3 separate regions of the Homo sapiens genome follow, and regions 1 and 2 are each reported to be linked to region 3. The links are microRNA targets in miRTarBase. Many come from high-throughput screens and were not tested one by one. Region 3 holds a microRNA gene; each other region holds the end of a gene's coding sequence.

Region 1 (7,123 bases), not on the chromosome of region 3:
GCAAGAGCTCTTGGTGGATCATCAACCCTGATGGGGGGAAGAGCGGAAAAGCCCCCCGGCGGCGGGCTGTCTCCATGGACAATAGCAACAAGTATACCAAGAGCCGTGGCCGCGCAGCCAAGAAGAAGGCAGCCCTGCAGACAGCCCCCGAATCAGCTGACGACAGTCCCTCCCAGCTCTCCAAGTGGCCTGGCAGCCCCACGTCACGCAGCAGTGATGAGCTGGATGCGTGGACGGACTTCCGTTCACGCACCAATTCTAACGCCAGCACAGTCAGTGGCCGCCTGTCGCCCATCATGGCAAGCACAGAGTTGGATGAAGTCCAGGACGATGATGCGCCTCTCTCGCCCATGCTCTACAGCAGCTCAGCCAGCCTGTCACCTTCAGTAAGCAAGCCGTGCACGGTGGAACTGCCACGGCTGACTGATATGGCAGGCACCATGAATCTGAATGATGGGCTGACTGAAAACCTCATGGACGACCTGCTGGATAACATCACGCTCCCGCCATCCCAGCCATCGCCCACTGGGGGACTCATGCAGCGGAGCTCTAGCTTCCCGTATACCACCAAGGGCTCGGGCCTGGGCTCCCCAACCAGCTCCTTTAACAGCACGGTGTTCGGACCTTCATCTCTGAACTCCCTACGCCAGTCTCCCATGCAGACCATCCAAGAGAACAAGCCAGCTACCTTCTCTTCCATGTCACACTATGGTAACCAGACACTCCAGGACCTGCTCACTTCGGACTCACTTAGCCACAGCGATGTCATGATGACACAGTCGGACCCCTTGATGTCTCAGGCCAGCACCGCTGTGTCTGCCCAGAATTCCCGCCGGAACGTGATGCTTCGCAATGATCCGATGATGTCCTTTGCTGCCCAGCCTAACCAGGGAAGTTTGGTCAATCAGAACTTGCTCCACCACCAGCACCAAACCCAGGGCGCTCTTGGTGGCAGCCGTGCCTTGTCGAATTCTGTCAGCAACATGGGCTTGAGTGAGTCCAGCAGCCTTGGGTCAGCCAAACACCAGCAGCAGTCTCCTGTCAGCCAGTCTATGCAAACCCTCTCGGACTCTCTCTCAGGCTCCTCCTTGTACTCAACTAGTGCAAACCTGCCCGTCATGGGCCATGAGAAGTTCCCCAGCGACTTGGACCTGGACATGTTCAATGGGAGCTTGGAATGTGACATGGAGTCCATTATCCGTAGTGAACTCATGGATGCTGATGGGTTGGATTTTAACTTTGATTCCCTCATCTCCACACAGAATGTTGTTGGTTTGAACGTGGGGAACTTCACTGGTGCTAAGCAGGCCTCATCTCAGAGCTGGGTGCCAGGCTGAAGGATCACTGAGGAAGGGGAAGTGGGCAAAGCAGGTCAGTGCCGAATGCTATGGCATAAAAATAACAATATGGGGATGAGGGGGGATCTCTGGGGGAGCCTGTCTTCTCTTTACTTTGAACTTTATTCCACACTGAAAACCATGGAGCAGTGGTGCACATAATATGGCTCCCAGCCAGTTCCATCTCAGGGTTTTACCTGCAAACCAAATAGGGCTGTCAGGTGCCCCCCTTCCCCCGCACAGTTTGCTGATAGTTCAGAAATCTACTGCTCGTGAAGAGAACACGTACGCATTCAGAGATCGCATTCTTTTTTTGCATCCAGTTGTCCTCACTGGCCTGTGACGCAGGTTGCCCTACTTGATGGATGGATGAGAAGAGAAGGAGAGGGATGGGAAGCTTGGGTCGTACTTCAGGGTTAAGGATCCCAGCCAAAGGGCTTTCCTAGAAAGACTCTCTGGTCCGTCACCGCTTTTGTCAATCTTCAGTGTTACATGTTCTTCATCTTTTTTTCCTTGTAAAGTAATGATCGGCAGGTACTTCTAATTTGCCTGCAGAATATGTATTCTAGACTCTTTCATATATGAATATTTCTAACAGAAGCAAAATCTGTTAATTATTCTTTATCTTAGTACTAAGCATCTTTATTAGCTAGCACTCAAGAGCTAAACCTTTAAAAAAGTAAGAGGCCAGGCACAGTGTCTCACGCCTATAATCCCACAACTATGGGAGACTGAAGCAGGAATTGCTTGAGGCTAGGAGTCAGAGACCAGCATGGGCAACATAGCAAGACTCTGTCTCTACAGAAAACTTAAAAAATTAGCTGGGTGTGGTGACACATACCTGTAGCCCCTGCTTCTCAGGAGAATCCCTTGTGCCCAGGAGTTTGAGGCTGCAGTGAGTCATGATCGTGCCACTGCACTCCATCCTGGGTGGTAAAGCAAGAACCTATCTCTTAGAAAAAAAAAAAAAAAAAGCCAAAAAATTAATTTGAAAACACAGGTGTTTGTATGAGGGAGTACTTACTCGTGTGCTTCTGCTTGTTCACCAAACTATAAATGATATCAGCAGTTTCCAAACATAGAGTGACACAGGTTGTGAATGGTGATGGAGATTTTTTCAATTGTGGCATTTTAATGTTCTCAGAACCACAAAGATCAGGCAGTGTGATGTAAGAAAAAGCATTTGATTGAAATCAGGAATTGAGGTTCAGGCCCACTTCTACCACTTTCTTGCTACCACTATGGTTGTGTCTTAGGTCTCTGAGTCTCAACTTCCAGTTTTATAAAATGAGGATAATAGCCCCCATTACTTCACAGGGTTATTACAAGAATCAAATGCACTAAAGCATGTGAAACTGCAGTAGGCTGAAATATGTACCATGCAACTAGGTATACTGACAAATGGGCAAGCAGGTAGCCCAGAGAGGTTAAGTAGTTTGCCCAAGGTTACAGAGCTAGGTTGATTTCTTTTTTTTTCTTTTTCTTTTTCTTTTTTTTTGAGATGGAGTCTTGCTCTGTCTCCCAGGCTGGAGTACAGTGGCGCGATCTCGGCTCACTGCAAGCTCCACCTTCCAGGTTCACGCCATTCTCCTGCCTCAGCCTCCTGAGTAGCTGGGACTACAGGCGCCCGCCACCACGCCTGGCTAATTTTTTTTTTTTTTTAATTTTTAGTAGAGATGGGGTTTCACTGTGTTCACCAGGATGGTCTCGATCTCCTGACCTTGTGATCCGCCCGCCTCAGCCTCCCAAAGTGCTGGGATTACAGGCGTGAGCCACCGTGCCCGGCCTAGATTCATTTCTTAAATGGCTTGAACCCCCATAGTAGTTCTTCCTTATTCTCTCTAGCTGGTTAGAAAAAAAGCGGGGAGGGGAGGGAAGTGCCCTGAACTGGAGTCAAAGTAGCAGATGATAGACAAGCTTTCCCTAAAAACTCTCCTCCTCAAGAAGTAAGATGAACACTGGGATCTTCTACCAACAGGTTTGCACCCCTAGCCACCTCGATGTTAACAGGTTCTGTTCCGTGCCCCAGCCCTTTTGCTTTGTTTTGTTTTAGTCTCAGCAAGCTACTTACAGGCTTCTTTAAGTGGTGTAAAAAGCAAGGGAATTCAAAGCTGTAAAAACTTGAGCCTTGTTTAACCCTCTGCCATGATGAAGGACTTAACAAGGGTCTCCTATGGTGAGCTCACTCCAGCTCACGGGTGGTTGCAGAAAGGGGAATGTTAAGAGTGTTGTGATGCTAAAGCCTCTCAACTTTCTCAGGCCTAAGAGACCCCTAATGGAACTCAGATATCTGATTTCAGTCATTTAATAGCCCTTGAGATGGTGAAAAGACTGTAATGGAAGCTAAGTAGGGTGGTAGTACTTCCATGCCAGCCAGCTCAGTTCCATACCAGAACTTGGGCTAGTGGAGATTTGACTTCAGAAATGTAGATATTTGGCCTTTAGAAGACTAGTTTGTCTTCCTTTAAGGAGAAGAATATGGAAGATTTGTCTTTAGAAATGTAGATGTTTGGCTTTTAAAAGAATAAATGGTTTGTCTTCCTTTAAAAATAGGCTTTTAAAGACACAAGTAAGTTTTAATTTGAGTGTAATTGTAAGGAGGCCACTTTCTAGTTCGTTGGAAAATATGTGTTCAGAAGACAATGTAGTATCAGTTTTTGTCTGATTTTTCAAGTGTTGGTTTCCCTTTTGGTTGAACAGCAGATCTTTCTCGTATATGTGTAATTCTAAAGGATTGTACAGAAAATTAAGGGAGATCTAAATACTTAGATTTTTAAAGTTTATCTGGTGAACTCTGATTTTGGTGATGATAATAAATGACTGCATTGAGGATAATGCATTTCATTGTTATATCCTAATGAAGCTTTAGGGTCATCTTCGCCTCAGAATATTTTGGGGGAGGTTGTTTTGAGAAGATAACTTCTTCAGCTAAAAATGAAAAGTCACCAAATTTTCCTGAAAGTAGACTAGCTCAGTATGACCACAGAGCATTTAAAGAACCATCCAAAGGACAGTGGGGGCTGTGAGGGGATCTAGTTTCTGGTTTAGGATTTCCATTTTTGCTTAGAATCCATTGTTCTTTCAGCAGCCAGGAGCACATGCAACCTGAAGTGTATTTTTTACTTTAAAACTTAACTGTGACTGTCACTTCATTGAAGACTCTCCTAAATTCACAGAACGAGGCTGAGGTCAGACTCTGACACCCTGCTTCTCTCAAATTAACTGTCCCAGCTTCCCAAGAGTTGCTCTCTAATAACTTTCTTGGTTTAACTTCTTAGTGTTTCTCCAGACTGAATTCCTGGCTTGCTCACAGAAGAAGGTCATGTGATGCTGAATCTGAGCCGCCTTGTGTTAATGGAGCGGTCTGCTCAGTTGACAGGCAGTCTTGCTGGGGAGCTGCAGCAAGATGCTTCTCTGGCGGGCTGGGTGTTTCACACGTCATTCATTTTAGACCACGTGTAGAATTCTTTGACCCTTAGGTCTATCTGGAAAAGAAAAAATAGCCATACTTTTTTGGAGGGCTGGCTGCTGGGTCGTGAAGGGCACTGTGTTCTCTCAGGTGTTCATAAAGCTTGGTGCATGTGCTTACAGTTGGTGGCAGAGATGGTCATGAGCTGGTGTGGTGCTGCAAGCTCGAGCTTCCGGTAAGCCTTCTTGAGTTCGACATGTGTCCTCTCTGAGGGAAACCAGCTTCAGTCTCACCTTAATTTGATATCAAAGATGCCTGCATTCACAAACTTTCATTCATCTTCATCTTTTGACATTTGGAGACACCATTAGGGAGCAGCCCAATATTTAGTTTAAAGTACTTTACATAAAGACTGGGAAGCATCCACCAGCAAAAGCCCAGATGGAGAGGGGAGGGGTGGTTCACTTCTTGTCTCTGCCACATCACTCAATCTTGTAGAATATTAGGTTTCTCATTTGTCAAAAGAAGACAGCCTCATCAAGTTTTAAAGGTGCATAGTATGTATAATTTTAAACTTGAAGACCGGGCGCAGTGGCTCACGCTTGTAATCCCAGCACTTTGGGAGGCCGAGACGGGTGGATCATGAGGTCAGGAGATCGAGACGGTGAAACCCCGTCTCTACTAAAAATACAAAAAAATTAGCCGGGCGTGGTGGCGGGCGCCTGTAGTCCCAGCTACTCGGAGAGGCTGAGGCAGGAGAATGGCGTGAACCCAGGAGGCGGAGCTTGCAGTGAGCTGAGACTGCGCCACTGCACTGCAGCCTGGGTGACAGAGCAAGACTCCGTCTCAAAAAATAAAAAAAATAAAAACTAAATAAACTTGAACCCTAACATTTTGTCTGTGAAATGGACCTGGTGAAGTCTATGTTATGATACAGAGCTAGAAAGAAATAGTGGTGTACTAGTGTGGCATCAGCAGGCTGCAGTATTGGAAGCCATTTGGAATTTACGTGTAGGCTACTTCCCAAAAGGAGTAAATCTTTGATGCTTGTTTGACTGATGTTTGAATGCTGTGATTCTAGTATGTCTTTAAAATTTATGTTGGGGATAGGACTAATTCTAACCAAATACAGGTAATATAGACTGTATCGTGTTTTTTATTGATGTAGATATTTCTGTTTTAGGGAATGTAACATCTGATAAATATGAATCTGTTATGAATTACCTGGAGAATATATTCTGCTATTTGTACCTATGACTATAGTCTTCGGTTATAGTATGCTAGCCTGAAGAATTCTGCATCTTCAGGGATCTTTATTCTTACCTTTTAAAAAAAGCCGAAAGTCTGAACTGTCATTCAGGGAGAGAATGTTGGGATCTTTTTAGTGTCGATGAGCGCGAGAGAAAATTGATATGGCCATAAAAAGGGGTTTTCTTTGCAGAGGCTGGTACACTGGCTACATACGCTGTTTTTTCCTGGAAAGCAGTGACATTTAGCATGAAGGCTGCTCTTCCTGGGCCTGTTGGTTTTATAAAATGCACCTGTTTTCACCTCTGGCCAGCCTGCTAAGCATGGAGACAGAGCCTGAGTGGCTCCTCCTTCAAGCAGTTGTATTTATAAACAGCTTTCTGGAAGGTCTCTTCTGTCCAGAGAGCTCATGTAGAACACAAACAGGGTGAAAATCACCAGAATTACTATTTATAACTTAGAGTGTTCATAATGCTCAGCAGCATCTTGTAAACAACATTTTCTATCAGTAGAGTCTTCCCCCAGGGGCCACCTGTGCTTCTCACAGGCTTATCTTTCTATATGGAGATGGGAGAAGGGGGCTTTCTGGGATCCGCTTTGCCATTGCTGGAGAGATTGCCTCCTAGAGGTCCTCCTTGGTCTTGGGCCAAGTGGGAGAATGTTTGCTGACTGCTTTCTCTTCCCTGACTTGGAGACACATATTTACTGGACTTTCATCCCAAGATGGAGATTCTCCACCTTGCAGGAGACACCACCTGCTTCACCCTGGTTTTGTTGATGTGTTCATTGAATTTCAAAGTATTGCTTTCCCCAATCCTCCAAATTGTTTTGAAGTTTAAAGTTTCAGAAACTAAAATGAATTTAAAATGTGTTTTGCAAATTAGTATTTAGAGGTCCTGTAAGTCAATGTTTCTCAAAATGTTTCTCGGAATACTAGATCCTCAAGATAGTCATAGATCCTCAAGATAGTGAAATGGAAAATGGATTCTGTGGTCAAATAAGTTTAAGAAATACCATGTTAAACAAAGAGAAATTGCATTATTTCCAAGAGAACTTCTCAGAGCCTTAAAGGTTAATACACATTATGAACTTTTTAGGGTAGGATATGTTATGCAGTGTTTCCTAAATG
Region 2 (7,123 bases), not on the chromosome of region 3:
AAAATCCGGAGGCTGGGGGTGGCTCAAGCCTGTAATCCCAGCATTTTGGAAGGTCAGGCGGGAGGATCGCTTAGGCCAGCAGTTTGAGACCAGCCTGGGCAACATAATGAGACTCTGAGACCCCGTCTCTTAAAAAAAAAAAATTCGCCAGGAGTGGTGGTGCACACCTGTAGTCCTAGCTATTCAGGAGGCAGAGGTGGGAGGCTTGAGACCGGTAGTTTGAGGTTACAGTGTTCTATGATTGTGCCACTGCACTCCAGCCTGAGTGACAAGAGTCCCTGTCTTTAAAAATAAATAAATATATAAAAATAAATGAAATCCATATTTACTCAGTGAGATTATGGCTAAAATAAGAAACTGGGCCGGGCACAGTGGCTCATGCCTGTAATCCCAGCAGTTTGGGAGGCCGAGGTGGGCAGATCACTTGAGGTCAGGAGTTCGAGACCAGCTCGGCCATCATGGTGAAACCTCATCTCTGCTAAAATGCAAAAATTAGCTGGGCTTGGTGGTGTGCGCCTGTAATCCCAGCTACTCGGGAGGCTGGGGCAGGAGAATCGCTTGAACCTGGGAGGCACATGTTGCAGTGAGCCGAGATTGTACCACTGCACTCCACCGTGGGTGACAGAGCGAGACTCTGACTCAAACAAAAACAAAAACAAAAAACTGAAGTGATTCAGAGAATGGTGAAAGAGCTTATAGCTGGGGTTCTAACTCAGCACTGAGACTTAATTTACTTGGGCCAAACTGGATTACTACTAGTAAACTGGTAGATGAATAATCATGCATTTGTCATAATCTTAAACTTTTTTTTTTGGCAATGTTTGTGTCAGGATGCAACACCTTTTAAGTTCATTTCCAAAGGTTCAAGATACTCCCTTAAACAGTTTTTAAAACAAGCACTCATTGACCACTATGTGCCAAATTCTCTTATGAACTTATTCTGATTCTTGTCATTTTTTTGTAGGGTAAATCATGTTAGTGTTCAAATTCATCTTCTTGACTATACTTTGCTTGTAATTTTAGGGTCCTTTGTAACTCTTAAATCTAGAGCTGTTTTTTTCTGTTAGGAAGCCCTTCCAACCCTACTAGCCCATTGACAATGTGTGCGCTCATCAACATTGTAAGAGAGGTTCGAAAGAGCTGATAAGGGAAAAGCAAGTAGGCACAATTCTTGTGGCACAAAGGTGCCAGACTGGGAATGCAGTGGGGTGACTGTATCATTTTATCTGCTGTTGTGTAACAAACCATTAAAAAATGTAGTGGCTTAAAGTAACAGTCATCTGTTTTGCTCACACTACACCTCAGGCAGGACTCAGTGAGATCAGCTCATCTGTTCCATGTGGTATCATTTGGGGCTGCTCCACTGGGTGTGGGAGGATCCACCTTCAAGATGGCTCACTGGCTGGCAAGACAGTGCTGGCTCAGCTGAAAGCTCAACCAGGGCCCTCAGTTCCATTCCACAGGCTACTTCAGTTTGCTCTTGGCACGATGGTAAGGTTCCAGGGGTGAGCATCCCAAGACAGGAAGTGGGGATACCAGTTTCTTAAGATCTGGGTCCAGAAAATGGCAGTGTCACTTCCACTGTATTCTATTGGTCAAGCAATCACAAAGCTCCAAGGAAACTCAAGAATGGACATGGGCCCTACTCAACAAAGGTGTCAAGAAATTCTGGAGCCATGTTTTAAAACTACAGTGAACTTGAGAGCATGGACATCTGAGTGGATAGGAATAAGAATATACTCACTGACTAGCACTGGGAATATGGGACACATGGTTTATGGAGCTACAGTGTACAGACAGTATTGGAAAGATAATGAAAACGCAAGACCAAATCCCAGGGAAGGCTGGCCCAACAGAGGGCCATTCAGCCAGGAGTCTAGGTATATGGAAGCTAGCTGAGAAGCAGAGGTAAAGACAAGGCCAGGCAGTCACAAGGTGGGAAGGACATGGGGAAGCTGAAGGTCAGAACAAGGCCAAGTGTCTGTAATCTGGTTAGGAGAATAGTCAGCAGTAGTCAAAGGAAATAAGACACCTAGAACCAAAAGGCGAACCCAAGAAAACAAGTCAATGCCAGAAAAGAAGGCAGAAATAGGGCTGGGAACAGTGGCTCAGGCCTGTGAGCCCAGCACTTTGGGAAGCCGAGGCAGGTGGATCGCCTGAAGTCAGGAGTTCAAGACCAGCCTGGCCAACGTGGTGAAACTGTCTCTACTCAAAATACAAAAAATTAGGCGTGGTGGCAGGTGCCTGTAATCCCAGCTACTCGGGAGGCTGAGGCAGGAGAATTGCTTGAACCTGGGAGGCGGAGGTTGCGCTGAGCTGAGATCGCGCCATTGCACTCTAGCCTGGGCAACAAGAGCAAAACTCCATCTCAAAAAAAAAAAAAAAAAAAAAAGGCAGAAATAGGAATCCAGATCTAAGAAATATGTAGCAATCAGAAAGAGGCAAGTCAAGGAGGAATAAAACAGACAAGACTTCAACACGGAGGCAGGGTGGGGAAAGCCCACAGTGCATCCACTTGGCTATGCTGCTATGAGATCTCAAGGTACCTCTCCAGAGCATCAACAAGGCAGGTCAGCAGTCATGAAGTGACCATAATGTTCCATATACAATACGAATAGGCAGACAAAGACTCTAAACACCAGAGCTGCAGTTATTTCAATTCAGGTTTTATTAAAGTTGTTTCTGAATATTTTTTCTCAGTGATCCTTGTTCTGATGAATATTACATTTCATCCTTAGTTTTGCTCATTTGATTTTGCTTTAGTGTTTAAAGAACTTTTATTTATCAAATCCTTTGCCATGAATGAGAGCACCAAATAACATATCAATACCCAACTGCCTGATTCCTTTACAGCAGTAAGAAAAGTCAGTAAAACATTTGTACAGTCCAAGTACTACAACACCAAGATCCCCTCTTCAAGTGAGAGTGAGCCAAAGCTTCCTTAGTATCATCTCAAGTCAATGTCTTTTCACTATACCATTAAGATGAAAATAACTAAGAGCACTGACACAATTTTCTTGCTCTTTCCATCTAAAAATGTGGGTTTCCTGTGGTGTGGCTAATTTTAAAAACCAGAAAATGGAAGGAAAATAAGTCAGTGAATGATTAGCTTACAAGTTTTTTCTACTCATCATTAACCAGTCTTCCCTTTTCCCTAGACTTTAGACAGCCATAAAAAGGCAGGAAAAACAATGTGCATAATAAAAAAATAAAAATAAATATCTGAGCACCTACTGTAGTAGGCATTTAACACATTTCACTTAATCCTCACAACGCTGTGAAAGAATTATTATAATCATTTTACGAATAAAGAAACAGGCTCAGAAGGGTGAAATCACTGGTGCCTAAAGTCCTGCAGGTGACTGAGCTGAGATTTAAGTTCAAGCCTATGCTCTAATATGCTGCTTTGGCTCCCCAAAGCCCTTCAGCTTGAGATTCTTACTACTATAGCTTCATCTTCTAATTCTAAATTTACACTTTTAAGTCTGCAAAACTACTGAATAACAAAAGAACCTAAAATTATTCTGAATTTACTTGCCAAAACGGGAGGTGTAATAGACCATTAGAAAATTCTTCTAGCCTGGACAATATAGTGAGACCCCGCCTGTAAAAAACAACCAACCAACCAAAAAAAAAAAACCAAAAACCAAAAACCAAAAACCAAAAAACAAAACTAGCCAGTCATGGTGGTGCACTTGCCTGTGGTCCTGGCTACTTGGTAGGCTGAGGTGGGAGGATCACTTGAGCTCATTAGGTAGAGACATCTCTTTAGGTAATCATAACATTCCATACCTAAAATTATTGTTAATTGTAATTAATGTTAATTCTAACTGGTAATGATAGCTAGCAATAAAAAAACACACAGAGAGTAATTACAATCAGCTCATTTTCTTATTGTCACCATCTGTCAAATCTCACAGAATGGAAGGCAAAAAAAGACAACTTCCTATTGTGAACCTTGATTGTTCATTAAATTTACAATATATACTTAGTGGAATGCCAAAAGATGTTCTGGTTTTACAAGCTTAACCACCAGTCTTTTGATTGCATTTTAAAAGTGCATATTTACTTGTTTTTTAAGGGTCTAAATCTGATGAAGATGGTAAGGCCCACAAGGAGATGGCTTTATTGATAAGTTTGTGTGCTGTCTTAGAATTATCTATAATGTATAAGAGGTTAACTTTCCACCACTCCACTGAATGTCATAGAGTTCCAGTGGAAAATGAATTTTATTTTATTTTATAACTTCAACCTAAACCTATATAATCTAGACATCCAACAACATCTGATTGTCTGCTGGAGACTTCATTGCATGCCCATTAATCTTAAATGGAGACTTAATTGCATGCCCATTAATCTTAAATGATTGACATTAATATCTAGTTGTTCTTCATTCATACTCTCACTGGAATTTAGTCAATAGTTTAGAGATTATTTTCCTTGTGTCCAGTCCTAAAAAGACTAGATTTTCATACTTCAGAAGCAGAAAGGGTGAGATTTGATCATTAAGGCCTCTTCCAACATTAAAATATCCATAATTGACTGCCTTCCTAAAATCTGACTGATGTATCATTCATTAAGTCGTTTATTGGACAAATCTTTTACAGAACACCAGCTATAAGACTGAAAAAAAACCACATAGGCCCATTAATTCTAGAGGTTAATATATAAAAGGTGAGCTCAATGTTTACACAGATGTGACTTAACAGATACAAAGAATAGGAAATAGAGCTTGTCAATATAACAGAGGTAGTGATTTGTGAGTACCAACTTAAAAAAAAAAACAACAAAAAAACTTTGCGGGCGCAGTGGTGAACGCCTGTAGTCCTAGCTACTTGGCAGGCTGAGGCAGGATTGCTTGGGCCCAGGAGTTGGAGGTCAGCCTGGGCAACACAGGAAAAAAAAAAAAAATTGCCAAGAGGAGAGAATACTTATGTTAAGTGTTCTTATCGCAAAAAGTAACATAAATAGAGCCAGAGGAAACTTAAAAAAAAATTCAGCATTAACTATTAATAAATGAAATGAGAAATCATGGGAACCTAACACTTTTGTCCTGATCACCACCTCCCATCATTTAATAAAGGATTATAAGGTAAAATTGACAAAAGGGCAGAGGAGTAAAGGCTGGTGGAATAAGTTGTAGGTAAATTACCCAAATAGAGCCATCTGGGTCATTAGCTGTTAGTGTTGCCTCAGTTTGCCTGAAATGATTATATGACAAGGAGGCTGAAAATAATTTGAAGAGCAAAGACAGCACAAGGCTTTTTGGCCATTCTTGCTTGAAAGGGTCCTGGGTATCTCAAATTTCGATGCTCCTTGCCTTCCAAGTCTCATCTAGACCTTTAGCCCCTGCAAATGGGGATGAGAAAGGGGTGGGTATGGGACAATGATGTGAGCATAAAGCCTATCTAGTTGGGATTACAAGAACAAAAGATGGCTAAAAGGAAAAAAACAAAACAAAAGGTAAAGTCCTGAAAATCTATGTGTATAAAAATCAATCCAAATGATCTAAATTTATACGACCACGAAGCTTTATCCTCTAAGTACCCAAATGTTGAACCAATCCCTACCATCTCCTTTTTCCACAAAATACAAGATACTACACAATTCCTGTTATAGAGACCGCTAGGAAGAAACATGTAGTTGAAAACCCATAGTTAAAAGGATTTTGGATTCAAATTTATCACAGTACCAATTTTCCTAAACATGTTTTGATAAAGGCCATTGGAACACCTGTCACACTGTTCAAATGCCCAATGGTAAGACTTCTGATGAGACCAAACAGGTCACATTAAATCAATAGAATATCTTAGAAATAAAGCCAATATGACTAAATCCAAAACATATCACATGAAGTACCTCATGTACAATACAAACCTAGTTTAATAAATAAAAGAAACATAGGTGACTGCGCTCTGGGAGAACATCCAGTTCCTGATGGCCTCTTCACAGTCTTCTCTGAGACTCCACTGCCACTTCCACTCGGGCAAGCCTAATGGTGCGGCCATGAAGTTTGTAGCCATCTTGTCTTACTAATGCCACGGTGCCAGGCTGCACCCCAACACCAGCTGGCACATGACAGATGAGTTCATGCTCATGGGGGTCATATTTGTCACCAATGGGTGTCAGTTTCTCCAGGCCATGCTTGGCAAACACACTTTTCAGCTTTGCTTCTAAAAGCAACAACCCTCGGAAGACCTTCTCCAGAGTGAGCTTTTGGTCCTCAGGCTCCGATTCTTCAGAAATGCACTCTGTAGTCTTCTCCAAAATGTCAGCCACCTCCACCAAGTCCTTACAGAAACTCTGGATTCCTGCAGAGAAGCCAGTTATTTTTATTGTTTGTGAGGAAATCACTCTGCCCGTGGGCATAGAGTTTGGGTAAGGCCTAGATAGACGGCTAGTATGCTGAGTAGTCCAGCAAGTGGAAAGGTTGCCACACAGGACTCAGAGATCATCACTGATTACCACCCCAACCCAACTGACAAGTCAGTGTCTCTCTCAGAAGGCATATATGACTAGGAACTTGACTAGGAAATGGAAAAGACAGAACCCAAGAACTAGGTAAGACTATACACAACAGGCTTAAACCTGTTCTTTAAAAACAACTATTTTTATGTACATGAATTTTTGTTGCTATTTGCTTGTAGTATTATGTACATTTTGAAAATTCCTGCCTGTCCCAGTTGTGCTATGGCATACATTCTCAACAGGGACAAGACATTAATATTTCACGAGAAGGGCACTAACAATAAAAAAAGAAAGTCAACAACACTATGCTAAGGGGTGTCATGAATGGTTTATTCTTGAGGACTGGCTAAATAGGAACACGAAAGTAAGACACAGCCATAGATGAGGTAAGTTGGCTATGAAGTTGCTAGAGATGGACCACAAAACTTGTCTGATTTTTTAAAAGAGTCATACGAACTGTTACAAGACAAAAGTAAATTCAGTTGTTGAGAAATCCCATTACGCTCAATTCTAAAACTTGATTTTTCTTACAGAAATGAGGGCAAGAAAGTCATCATTAGAGAGGTCTATGACACGATACCAAAGCTCCAGTGGGGGCTGGTGAGAGTCAAGGACTTTGTTAATCTGACTTTAATCCAGGGACAGGCTTAAGGCC
Region 3 (7,123 bases):
ACATGCAATGTTTGGCTCACATAAGTGAGTTTTTCTTACCATCTCCCTCAGTGTGTGTTGAATCTATTCTGTGGTTAGTCAAGCTCCCAGACTTAATTGCTATGTTTAATAAAAACAATTTTGGCTTTTAATGATAAATGAAGAATCAGGGCTATTAAAATACTTAAGAGTGAGAAAGTTGAAAAAAGACATAGATTGTGTTTGGCCTGTCTTCTCCCCACTGTAGGGGGTTGCCACTCAGCTGGAGGCCTGCTGGTTCGTGTGGGCCAGCCCTTGACACCTCAGTGACCAAGCGAAATATAACCCTCACTAAGGCTTCTTGTACTTGGCAAGACCCAGGAGTAGACCTGGGCTACCAAACAAAACCCTGTGTTCTTAGAGCTTGGGAACAAGAGCTTTGACAGTTTTCCTCAAAGAATTGTATTCTGTAGCATTAGCATTTTTATTTTCATCTACCTGCAGCCATTACTACATTGACCTCTGGAAATGTCACATCAGCTGTTCTTGAGACAAAATACCATTTGCTATTTTTTTTTTCTCTAGGCCCTGTACCTTTGATGTTAAGTGGTGGAGTTGGTGGGATTTGCCTCTGGCTTGCGGTATACCCAGTGGATTGTATCAAATCCAGAATTCAAGTTCTTTCCATGTCTGGAAAACAGGCAGGATTTATCAGAACCTTTATAAATGTTGTGAAAAATGAAGGTGAGTAAATACCTGTTTTTCAAGCATCTATATACATCTTAAAATCTGAGATACGGGCCGGGCGTGGTGGCTCATGCCTGTGATCCCAGCACTTTGGGAGGCTGAGGCAGGTGGATCATGAGGTCAGGAGATCGAGACCATCCTGGCTAACACGGTGAAACCCCGTCTCTACTAAAAATACCAAAAAAATCAGCCAGGCGTGGTGGCAGGCACCTGTAGTCCCAGCTACTCGGGAGGCTGAGACAGGAGAATGGCGTCAACCTGGGAGGCGGAGCTTGCAGTGAGCTGAGATTGCACCACTGCACTCCAGCCTGGGCAACAGCGAGACTCTGTCTCAAAAAAAAAAAAAAAAAAAAAATCTGAGATATGAACTCTGTTTTGATTGTAAAAAGAAAGAGGACAGTAACACAGAAACTTTGTGTCCCAAATAGAGGACAGATACCTTGTCTGTTACTCATAGTAATCCTCCCTTACATTTGTATAACATGTAAAGTTTTACAAAGTACTTACACCTCCCTTATCTAATTCAATCTTCATAACCACCCTGGGCAGTACTAATACTATACACAGGTCTCCAACTTCAAGGTTGGTGTTCCTGCCACTGCCCAGGTGAAGCTGCAAAGCTGCTGCCACCTCTATCTCCATGGTTGCCTCTGTCTGGCCATCTCAGGCCTCAGCTCTGCCCCATCCATATACTAAGAGTTAACCAAGCGTGGAATTGGGGTATGTTACCTGAGCATCAGTCAGTTTTGCCAGGAGACCTGATACTTGTCCTTGTTTCCATTAGTCTATTTAGGAAAAGCTGGGAATGCATCCTTCTATGACTTGTTGGTTTTTAGCACTGTTGTCTGGGTTTGCATGTGTAAATATACCTATGCTATGCAGCTGCGTGGGTATCCCCAAAGGAGGGATTGTTGCAGTCTTTGACCGCCCTTTTATTTGCTAGGAATAACGGCCTTATATTCTGGACTGAAACCTACTATGATTCGAGCATTCCCTGCCAATGGAGCACTCTTTTTGGCCTACGAATATAGCAGGAAGTTGATGATGAACCAGTTGGAAGCATACTGAAGTGTCTTGGTGGGCCTGAGCCAAGCACAGGTGTTTGAGGACTACAGTTCATCTCAGGGTTTCTTGGAGTACAAGACCAGTGTGAAGTTATTCTGATTTCTTGGGAATTTTGCTTTTTGTCTTCCCTTCTACCCTACATCTTAAACTTTATGGAAGAACCTCTATTTTGCATCATATCATTTCTGTCCATAATTGTACTGAAATAGAAAAGTGACCGCTCTTGCTCTTGGTAAAATATAGAGTGGTCAGTAGCCTTATGCACCTAATTCAAAAGGTGGAATATAGTTCTGTCAGGGCTTTTACGTAAACCTCCACTTGTACATGCAATTTGGACAGTTATGTGTTGAGGGAAATACAGTTTGGTACCTTGTTTATTTCAAATATCAGAAAAACCCAGAGGTGATCATTTCTCATGAAGATGCTTATAAATGGTTGCTTAACCCATTCTAGATGTAGGGTCTGCTTAATGTGTGTACTTTTCTAAGTGGTTGATTATTTTTTATTTTTTTGATACAGAGTCTCACTCTGTCACCCAGACTGGAGTGCAGTGGCACGATCTCGGCTCACTGCAACCTCCGCCTCCTGGGTTCAAGCGATTCTCTCACCTCAGCCTCCTGAGTAGCTGGGATTACAGGTACGCGCCACCATGTCCAGCTAATTTTTTTTGGTATTTTTTGTAGAGACGAGGTTTCACCATGTTGTCCAGGTTGGTCTCGAACTCCTGACCTCAAGTGATCCGCCCACCTCGGCCTCCCAAAGTGCTGGGATTACTGGTGTGAGCCACCATGCCCAGCCAGTGGTTGAATTTTTTAAAAAGTGTTCATGGGGTGCTTGAAAACTAAAATATCCTTCTAGATTTGTAAGACAGTATACCTGCATACTGGTGTGGCTTCCACACTTGAGTAAAAGCTTCAGAGTAGGTATCCTAGATTTCCCCAAGATGCTCTACTCTTAAAATAGTGCCATTCATTTTCTAGGTGGGATCATATTCCACGCTGACTATATTGCTAGGGGTGGCCCAGAGGGTCAGGCCTTTGGGAAATAGCATGGCCTTTACCAGCTTCCCTTCTCTCCCAAAGAACTTCCCTTCTTGGGCTTTAGATTGAGGAAGGGGCTGAGTGGTAGGCGGTGCTGCTGTGCTCTGATGAAGACCCATGTGGCTAGCAACAGCGCTTACCTTTTGTCTCTGGGTCCTGGCCTGGGGCCATCAATCCACTTTGGGCCACTCACTGTCTGCTCTGCCTCCACCAATCAGAAACCCTTCCAAGGAACAGTGAGAGCCAAAGCCAAGAGAAGCCTTCTTCCCTGTTTGGTGATTGTGTGACAGTGGGTGAACCTCTCTCAGAGAGAACTAGAAAGAACTCAGTGCTTGTACTCCACAGTGAGTAATGTCAGGTCTGACCCATCCTGAAGCCTGTCTTGCCATGCTTTTACAGTGTTGGAGGCTTCTACATTTGGTACTTGCAGTCAGTAAGTCTTAATGATGACTGTATATGTGATATGAGTTTATAAAGCAATGGAACATAAGAAAAGCAATTGTAGGCCAGGCGCAGTGGCTCACGCCTATAATCCCAGCACTTTGGGAGGCTGAGGCGGGCGGGTCACAAGGTCAGGAGTTCGAGAACAGCCTGACCAACATGGTGAAACCCCATCTCTACTAAAAATACAAAAATTAGCTGGGCGTGGTGGCACGTGCCTGTAATCCCAGCTACTCAGGAGGCTGAGGCAGGAGAATCGCTTGAACCCGGGAGGCAGAGGTTGCAGTGAACTGAGATTGTGCCACTGCACTCCAGACTGGGTGACACAGCGAGACTTCATCTCAAAAAAAAAAAGAAAAGAAAAGCAATTGTACTTCACTATGCCATATGTATGTATTCACTGACCAAAAATTCACTGACCAACCAACCAAACTCCACACTTCATCTGATCCCCCATAGACTTGGGGATGGACAGCTGTTCTTTGGCCATATGGTATAAGAGGATCATTCTTGTCACTACTTAAGTTAGCCTCATCATTTTGTGCTGCTCCAACACCAGCAGGGTATCTCCCAATAAAGTGTTCCTAAGCAGCCTGTATACTGAGTGCAAGCAGGCTATCAATTTTAATAATAGTCCATACCATGTATGTGTTTCTGTCAGCAGAATGTACATGTTGTACAAAACCTCCAGGTTCCTTAAGCTTTTTGCTGTCCATGAATCCTCTGTGGCAACTGTAATCACAGAGCCAGAAGCCAGAGGGCCAGGGATATGAGAGGCTGACAAACATCAGGGGACATCTGGGGAGGAGATCCCTGTCATGTCTCTTGTGCCATGGAGCTATTATGGCTGGTCTTCCATTTGCTTTTTCTTTAAGTGAAAACCATTTTTCTACTTTGCTTTTCTCTCCATACTTAAATGGTCAGTAGCTACTGAGTGGTGCTTTATCTGAATAGGCCTGGATCGAAGTAAAATAGAAATGGGACTGGCTTTCCACAGGAAGTAAACTGCTTCAGAGCCCACAGTCCCCTGCTCAGTGTCCGGAAAGAAGTCAGTCATCCCTGTTGGCAGTAAATCTTCCCACAGGCCGTCCATTAGAGATTTAACTAGATATGTTCAATAGAAAGAGTCTGAGGCAAGTGGAAATGAGGAACGGAAACTTAGGTTGGGAGAATATTTTTTTTTTATTCATTCTGTTTGCTTAATTCAGAGTACAGTTTGTGCTATTTCATATCTGTACTCCAGGCAGAAATATAACTTGAAAATACTGTGTCTAAAGAAATTTCAGTGTTCTATCATTAAATTATTTACTTAATATTTGAGTCTGATGAATTTCATTGAAGTTCTTTACATCCATGTTGGGAAACAACTGTCAGGAATGTTAAAGAGTTATGTATAGTAGTGTTTCAAGGCAGTGGTTTTATTGCAACAAGCATTGTTTTCTGTCAGCAAGACACCTCATGTAAAATAATTTCACCATAGGTAAGGTGACAAAAATATTTCTATGCTCTGAAGTTATGGAACTTGGCTCACTAGAATTACTTTCTCCCTCCACCTCTTTCCCTCTATTTTAAAAAATAGTTAAACTGTCTGCTTTTAAGTTTTGGATGATTCCATTCCAAGTTACTAAATTCTACTTAAGAAAACAAGTATCTGAAGTGCCAAGATGGCTGACTAGAAGCAGCTAGTGTGCGCAGCCTTCACAAGAGGAGACAGAGTGGTGAGTGAACACAAGCTCTTCAGGTTGATCATCCAGCAGGCTGTGTTGGGATTCATCAGGGAAGCTGTGGTGAGTCATGGAGAGCATAGGGGAGTAAGGAAGGACAGCTGTCCACCTGGGATTGGTGCAGAGCAAGGGGAGGCTCCCTACAGCAGGGAAAGTGTGAGTGAGTGAAGGCTCCTGGGGACTCACACTTCTGCCATGGACCTTGGCAATCCCCAGGCACAGGAGATCCTCCATGACTCCACCTGCCCTCCCCCCCCCCCCCCCCCACCCACACACACACACACCCTGGGGTTCTAGACTGACACAGAGAGCTGCTTGGAGTCTGGGCAGAGCCACTGCTCAAGCCAATGTGGATCCCTGAGCTGCTATGGCCCCGGCTGCCATAGTCCGGCCAACAAGGTAGGCCAGGCTCTCTCGTGTGCCCCTAGGATAGGGGCCATATCCATGGTGCTGAGGAGCGGACAGATTGCAGGCCTCACTTCCACTGCACCTTGCCAGGCAAGGCCCACTGGCCTGGGCCTCCATCGCAGCCATGCTACCCACTACCTGAGCACTCCAGCTAGTCACAGCCCTCATTTCTCTGGGATGGAGCTCCCAGAAGTAACCAACAGGCCCTCTGCCCTGCCGTAGCCTGTGCCCCTGCTGCCCTCAGGCTGGAGAGGGAGCAAAAAGCCCAATAGCGGTCATGGGCCTCCAGCCTGCTATAGCTGACATATGGAAAGGCAGCCCAGACTGTTTTCCACGAGTCCCTGGCCCTGCTGCTCACTGGGCAGGGTGCCTCCTGGCTTGGGCCCCCAGCACAGCTCCTGCCTGATCAGTTGGTGGTGGCTCTGTGTTTCTCTGGGATGGAGGTCCCAGAAACAACTGACAGGCCTCTGCCATTGCTGCCACCACAGTACCTGCCCTTGCTTCCCCCAGGCTAGGGAGGGAACAAAGGGCCTGATTACTTTGTCAGCATTCTACAGAGAGGAGGCCAGACTGTCTTCCGGGTTGAGTTGCCTGACCTCCCTGCTCTTCAGGCAGGGCCCCCAGCTTGGGCCCAGCAGCACAGCTGCCCCAACCCTAAGCTGAGGAGGGAACAAAAAGCCTGAGCTTGCACTGGGGCTGCAGTGTGGCAGCTTGGAAGTGCCAAGGCGAGATCTGTAGCAGGCACTAGAGCAGGAGAGGAGCCCACACTCTCAGAGTACTGAGAGTGCTGAGTTACATGAACCTGTGGGCTACCACAGCAGTGGGCATGCCTCCCTATGCAGGGCCAGCTGTCTGGAAAAGGGATGGCCTATCTCCCTACCTCAGCCTCTGCCTGAGGGAGTGCACCTGACAAAAGAAACACGGGCACAGTGCCATTGGTTGGAAGGGGCTCCCCCAGGGCCCAGGAGCGGACCTGATGAGGTGGTCACCTCTCTTCCCACCGCACCACAGAGCACAGCCAGAAACACCAGGAAATCCAAAGGAGCAAAGTGGCTAAGATCTGTCTACCGACCATTACTCCTAAGCGCCATCTACTGGAATTCAGTAGATGTAGCAAACTACAAAAATAGTTTGCTAATATACCTTCCTGTAAAACCAAGGTAAGAATTCAACCACAAATGCACAGAGCCTTGGCCCTCAGAAAACATGAAGAAATTCAGCCAACTGACTGTACTCAACTTACACCACAGTTAAAAGAATACCAACCCTCAGATGAGAAAGAATCAGCACAAGAACTCTGGCAATTCAAAGAGCCAGAGTGTCCCCTTACCTCCAAATGAGTCCACTAGCTCCCTAGCAGTGGTTCTTAACCAGTTGGAAATGGCTGAAATGACAGATGTAGAATACAGGATCTGGATGCCAAGGAGGCTCATCAATATTCAGAAGAAAGCTGAAAACTAATCCAAGGATTCCAGTAAAGTGATCCAAGAGCTGAAAGATGAAATAGCCATTTTAAGAAAGAACCAAACTGAACTTCGATAGCTGAAAAATTCACTATAAGAATTTTATAATACAATTGGAAGTATTAACAGCAGAACAGACCAAGCTGAGGAAAGAATCTCAGCGCTCTTCTAAACAACTCAGACAAAAATAAAAAAAGAATTTAAAAAAATGAGCAAAACTTCTGAGAAATAGTGGATTATGTAAAGAGACCAAGTCTATGACTCATTGGCATTCCTG

Evidence for each region. Region 3 holds the annotated microRNA hsa-miR-621 (GGCUAGCAACAGCGCUUACCU, at 2,932-2,952, shown strand). A microRNA usually pairs through its seed, bases 2 to 8, with sites in the 3' UTR of a target mRNA and lowers its output. Matches are read on the target gene's strand: a 7mer-m8 pairs with bases 2 to 8, a 7mer-A1 pairs with bases 2 to 7 and ends in A, and an 8mer does both.
Region 1: miRTarBase lists FOXO3 as a target of hsa-miR-621. The part of its 3' UTR that is shown has no 7-base or 8-base seed match.
Region 2: miRTarBase lists GRPEL2 as a target of hsa-miR-621. Seed matches in the 3' UTR shown: 7mer-m8 at 3,843-3,849.

Annotation. Positions count from the first base shown.
Region 1 is chr6:108,663,519-108,670,641 of GRCh38, forward strand. It overlaps FOXO3 (forkhead box O3), which reads left to right. Exons shown (of 3, transcript NM_001455.4): 2 at 1-1,371. The coding sequence ends at 1,337. Among named protein-coding and RNA genes, the nearest start is that of LINC00222, 85 kb to the right of the region's middle. RefSeq lists a silencer at 879-1,079.
Region 2 is chr5:149,350,106-149,357,228 of GRCh38, reverse strand. GRPEL2 (GrpE like 2, mitochondrial) reads right to left here. Exons shown (of 4, transcript NM_152407.4): 4 at 2,646-6,311. The coding sequence ends at 5,947. All of the region lies in intron 1 of GRPEL2-AS1 (GRPEL2 antisense RNA 1), which reads left to right. Among named protein-coding and RNA genes, the nearest start is that of GRPEL2-AS1, 4.0 kb to the left of the region's middle.
Region 3 is chr13:40,807,895-40,815,017 of GRCh38, forward strand. MIR621 (microRNA 621) reads left to right here and starts at 2,872; the gene lies at 2,872-2,967. SLC25A15 (solute carrier family 25 member 15) reads left to right here. Exons shown (of 7, transcript NM_014252.4): 6 at 544-702; 7 at 1,649-4,566. The coding sequence ends at 1,773. It also overlaps the pseudogene TPTE2P5.